Linked DNA regions of Homo sapiens: region 2 is linked to region 1. The links come from fine-mapping of genetic effects on gene expression. A gene starts in region 1. The other region holds a variant in brackets. All regions are shown on one strand. Distances are between the middles of the regions. Region 1 holds the start of ZNNT1 (ZNF706 neighboring transcript 1). Region 2 has its middle 6.3 kb from the start of ZNF706.

Evidence for each region. PIP is the estimated chance that this variant, and not a neighbour inherited with it, causes the effect.
Region 2: its variant is the best candidate, but not a certain one, in a credible set for the expression of ZNNT1 in whole blood (TOPMed, PIP 0.72).

Annotation. Positions count from the first base shown.
Region 1 is chr8:101,168,739-101,171,665 of GRCh38, reverse strand. It overlaps ZNNT1 (ZNF706 neighboring transcript 1), which reads left to right and starts at 1,427. Exons shown (of 1, transcript NR_164368.1): 1 at 1,427-2,927.
Region 2 is chr8:101,210,506-101,213,432 of GRCh38, reverse strand. No RefSeq gene overlaps it. Among named protein-coding and RNA genes, the nearest start is that of ZNF706, 6.3 kb to the right of the region's middle. The variant T/C (reference allele first, on the strand shown) is at 1,501.

The DNA.
Region 1 (2,927 bases):
ATGCCACTTTTAATCTACGACGGTAAAGGAAAACAATTTCTCTTATATGCTATTTAAGAGTTAGGTATTTAAGATTAAAGGAACTATGTATAAATATCACTTATCCAGAAGTCTTCTGAATATTTCATTTCTCATGGAAATGCTGGATGTTTTTAAGCAACATTATCCATTATAAAACAATTCAAAAAGGGGGAAGAAAATCCTACAAAGATAACAAAAACTGTGAGGTTTTTTTTGTATGAAGTAGCCAATTTTCACAAAAAGTGCTGTTAGCGGTTTATAACACTGCTAGGAAATGTATTTTATATTAAAAATCGCTAACAGCACAGTCATTGTTTTCAAGATGCTTTAGAATGGGAAGAAATGTTCAATCTTTTTAACGTGTATCGGCATGTATAGGGTGTACTCTTTTAAAGAAAAATTTCAACTATTATAAAATCTAAGAAACTTTAAAACTGTGTCATTTATAATGTAAAATTAATGCAGCTGAGATTCAGTGGTTGACTCATAGCTCCCACATTCATCTTCAGTTCTCTTTAGCTCATATGGTTTTCTTTAAAAATTAGTGATATCAGCTAAATGGAACTATTTTCCACTCCTACCCACAGAGAAAAGTGCTTTTGTGAACATGTCAGCTCTGTTCCATCATTACATGCCATCATGCAGTGCAACAGAAGCAGGCTGGCTGTGCATACTTGATAACCAATATTAGTACAGATTTGAGAGCAAAATCCAAAGAAGATAATACTGTATTTCCATCTATTTATTTTATGCACATAAGCCACCTTTTTAGAACCAAGGAATTTTATAGCTAGACAAGATCTTGGAAGTCTTCCAATCTAGCCTCTTTATTTTGTACATATGGAAACTGAGGCACAAAGAGGTTCAGCAACTTCCCCAAGGTCACATAGCTGGTAGAGGTAGGCTGGGACTAGAACCCAGGTCTGTGTGACTCCAAAGTCTGTGCTCCTCCCACTATACTGCTTCACAGATAGGAGCTGATCTGCCTCAAATCTTCTGCCCCTTGGCCTTTCCACAACTCTGCATTGCTGCCATCTAACAGTGCCTTCCACTGGTGCCATGCTAAAGCTCGTTAGGAGGCAACTTAACATTGTTCTGTAAAAGCTCTACAGATGTAGGATGCTAGCTATCTGTTCTCCCCGGAAATCTTTTCAATTCAATTCTGCAAATAACTTAGGCTTTCCCAGACTAAGCAGTTCCTTCTCTCATTCCTGCAATTTGCTTTCCAGTTACCTTCTTCTGGACACATTCATTTCCAGTGCCCCTTCTGTTAAAATGGGCCCCACTAGAATCTCTGTTGCTGGGCACGGTGGCTCACGCCTGTAATCCCGGCACTTTGGGAGGCTGAGGCGGGTGGATCACCTGAGGTGGGGAGTTCAAGACCAGCCTGACCAACATGAAGAAACCCCATCTCTACTAAAAATACAAAATTAGGCAGACATGGTGGCACGTGCTTGTAATCCCACCTACTTGGGAGGCTAAGGCAGGAGAATCGCTTGAGCCCGGGAAGCTGAGGTTGTGGTGAGCCAAGATCGCTTCATTGCACTCTAGCCTGGACAACAAGAGCGAAACTCCGTCTCAAAAAGAAAAAAAAAATTGGCCCCACTCAAAATGGTACTCCTCCAAGTTGCTTTTTCATCCTTGTATTCCCCATGGTCATTCATCCCACTGCTGTCCTTCTGTCTCCAAGTCCTCTTTGCCTTGCTTCCTTCCCTCTCAACCCACAGCATCAGAGCAGTTTCTCCCCCAGCTGACCCTCTTTCCACTTTCAGTGCTCAATATTTTTTACTTTGCCTGTGGAAATGATCTCTTAACTGGTTTCCTTAAGTCCCTCCAGAAATGTTTTTCTAAACTCCAACAACTGTGCAAGGTCTAATTGCCATTGGTTTATCACCCACTGGACCCAGAAGCACCATCCTGGATTCTGCTTCTGCATACCCCTGTCAGCTCTGTGTCTTTAGGGACATCATTTAAACCTTCAGCTTCACTTTCTCCACTTATAGAATGAAGATGAGGAACAAGAACATCAATCTTTGAAATGATGCCAAGTATAAGCCTCTGTGTGTGTGTCTCCCCACTCCAATTTGTCCAACAGACTGCTTCCAAAGAAATCTTCCTAAAACACTGACCATCTTTTTTTTTTTTTTTTTTGGCTGCAAAATCTTTCATTTCCTCATCCCCTCACATAACTTCCAATCTTCTTGGCCTGGCACTAAGGACCTACTACAGACTGGCACTGAAATATCTTCCCTACCTTATCATTCCTTGTGCTTCTCCACAAGCCCACTCTTCCCCTTCATCATACATGTGCCGACCTTTCCTGTCTCTTTTACTTTGCAGCACCAAATGCTTTCTACTTTGTGGTCTAGGAGGAACACATGTCACTTTTGTAAGCTGCTCGAAAGCAGGGGCCACACCTTCATCCTTGTTTTCCACACAACACCAAGCACTTAGTAGACACCCAATAAATCATTGCTGAATGAATGTATTCAGCCTGGAATTGCACTAGGATTTTTTGGCCAACACATTGTATTCTTAACTGATACCAGACTTCCAATCAAATAAAATCCTTAAGCCTTTTTCATAGTCTTTAATTAAACTACTTCTCTTCCATTATTTCCCTTTGCCTACTTTTGAACTGATATTCAGAACTTTTCTGTTAATGTTTAATTTTCATCCATTATTCTTGTCTGTACAGATCTTTTTGATTTTTGACTCTCTTATCTAGTTTTTTTTTTTTTTTTTTGGCTTCCCGTTGTGTTATCCACAGGCACAATGGGTATATTGACTATCGTTCATTGAAGTTGTTGATACAAATGTTGAACAGGAGAAAAACCAGTAGCTTGCCAACTTGGCACCTCATTCTCTAGCTTGACAGTAATCTCTTATCTAGTAGTTTTTAGATA
Region 2 (2,927 bases), 42 kb before region 1:
AGCAAAAACTATACTGGTTAGTCTTTAGGCTTCTCTGGGCTGCCATCTTGGGACCTTCATTCTCTTCTTGCATATTTCCTTCATCTCTCTCTTGCGATGGAGCCCACATCATCCACTTCCTTTACTCCCTCACTTTGGTGGCCCATATCCTTCAATAAGTTCAGTGAGGAAGGGTGACCAGGAGGTAAATAGTGTGATACCTTGTATATCTTTCTCTACTGTTTTCTAATTTTCAATATTGCTGTTGAGAAAACCAGTAACATTCTGGTTTTTAATTCTTCAATGAAACTAATTTATTTTTTCCTCTCTGGAAGCTTATAGGCTATCCCCTTTATTGCTAGTGTTCTGAAATTTCATTTAGATGTGCCTTGGTGTGGGTTTTACCCATCCAGTGTACTAGCACTCTTTGGGGGCCTTCAGCTGGCAATTCGGTTATTAATAGCTCTTTAAAAAATAATTTCCTCTTAGTTTTTCTGTTCTGGAATTTCTATTAGTTGAATATTGGGTCTCCTGAAATTACCCTTTAATTCTATTGTCTTTTCTTTCATATTTTCTAACTCTTTGTCTTTTCATTCTACAGTTGAACCATCAATGATACAAGGATTAGGGGCACCAATCTCCCCACAAAGTCAAAAACCTACATGTAACTTTTGACTCCCCAGAAACTTAACTACTAATAGCCTACCATTGACCTGAAGCCTTACTAATAATGTACATACTCAATGAACATATATCTTGTATATGTGTTATACAACTATTTTTTACAATACAGCAAACTAGAGAAAAGAATATTATTAATAAAATCGTAAGCAAGAGAAAATATATTTAATATTCATTAAGTGAAAGTGGATCATCATAAAGGTTTTTATCCTCATGATCTTCATATTAAGTAGGCTGAGATGGAGGAAAAAGAGCAGGGATTGATCTTGTTGTCTGAGGGATGGCAGACGCAGTAGGAAATCCACGTATAAGTGCACCCACACAGTTCAAACCCATGTTGTTCAAGAGCCAACTTTCTAGGATATTTTCTTAATTTTACCTTCCACCCTTTCTTGAGTTTCCATTTCTACTAGCAGATAGGTAGGTAGGTAGTTAGATAGACAGACAGACAGACAGACAGATGAGATAAACTTTTCCAGTATCTTTTTTGTAGTTGTTTTCTCTCATTGTTCCTTTATTTTAAAATAGCTTCCAGGACACACCATGTTATCATCTCTGTGAGTTCGTGTCCCTCTGATGGTTCTCTTGAAGTTTTCTTCTCCCAGCATAGTTTGTTTTCTCTTGCTTTTTTCTCTGCAACTTTGGGGACTCTGTGTTTCATATAAGAGGTTTTCCTCAAATGTTTGGTTATCCTTGGCTGTGTGCTCACATTTAAGAACAGGGCACTAGACATCTGATTGGAAGACTGATACATGCAGGTGCCACTTTTCAAACATGGGATTTGTTGCAGGATTACCTGGCTGTGCTGTCTTATTGGGCAATCCCAAGTATCAGTATCTT[T/C]AGGTATTTCCATTGAGTTGGGTTCTAATCCCCAAGAAAACTCTTTCAGTTTTCTGGCTGGAGGTATAAGATTGTCTGTTTCCATTCTCAGAGCTGAGATGGTGAAGTGTCTCTCAACATTCAACTTAAATTTTCATTTAGTCCTCTGTTTTGCTACCCCCACTCATGCTTGCTGCCCCTTCAGTCCAGAAACCCTCTTCTCTCCTAAATCAGTTACCACTTGTTTACTTACTTTGCAGCTTCCAAAATTCTGCTACATTCTTCTCTTCTGTTTTCTTTTCTTCAATGGTAAAGGAGTTTATGCTTTCTTATAAACTCCTTTACCATTATTTTTAGTGGGATTCCAACAAAGGGTAGAGGTAAATGCATGTGTTCAAGCCTCTATCTTTAACTGGATGGCAGGGGTAATCATTTTCAAATACTGGCCTCACGGATTGTCACTGATACTTGTAATTTCATTCACAATCCACTCTCTTATTTCATCCATTTACAGATACTTATTAACTACCTGCTAGGTGCCAGGCACTGTACTAGATGCTGGTTAACAAGACATAACTCAGGACCTGAGGGAGCTCATCTTCTATGGATAAACAGGCAAGTACAACACAGTGAGATAAGTGCTATTTTTAGGGAAGTACATCATAATCTGTGATACCTAGGAGGTCTCCTAACCGAGTTTAAAGGAATCATTCAGACTTACATTCATTCAACAAATATTTATTGGGTACCTACATCATGCCAGATGCTATGCTAAATACAGGCTACACAGGGATAAAAAGAACAGATACAGAACCACCCTTATAGTATACACAGGACCACGGCTCAGCCTCAGGAAAAAGACTGCCAGGAGCCAAATCTTAGCTTTTCTACTTACTAGCTGTGTAATCTTAGATAACTTAGCCATTTTGTACCTCAGCTACATAAGAGTTGTTGAGAAGGTTAAATGAATCAAAATATATAAAGCATATATAACAGTGCCTGGTAGATAGTAAGTACAGCACAGGTGTTACAGGTTATTGTTTTAGGAATCAAATGGAAAGGAGAAATTCTACAAATTTATATATATACACATATACATTATATATACACATATACATTATATATACATATATATGTAAAACATTTCATGAAACAATACATAATATTGCATGATAAATTCAAAGGATGAAAAGTACAAGGACTCCTCATTCAGATGGGGGCTCAAGGAAGGACCTCCTTTCACTTAGCATAACGTTTTCAAGGTTCATCCAAGTTGAGGCATGTATCAGAACCTCATTCCTTTTTATGGCCAAATAATATTTCATTTTATGGCCATACCACAGTTTCTCAGTTCATCACCTGCTGAATATTTGGGTTGTTTCTACTTTTTGGCTATTATGAATAATGCTGCTTAAAATGTACAAACTTTTGTGTGAACGTATGTTCTC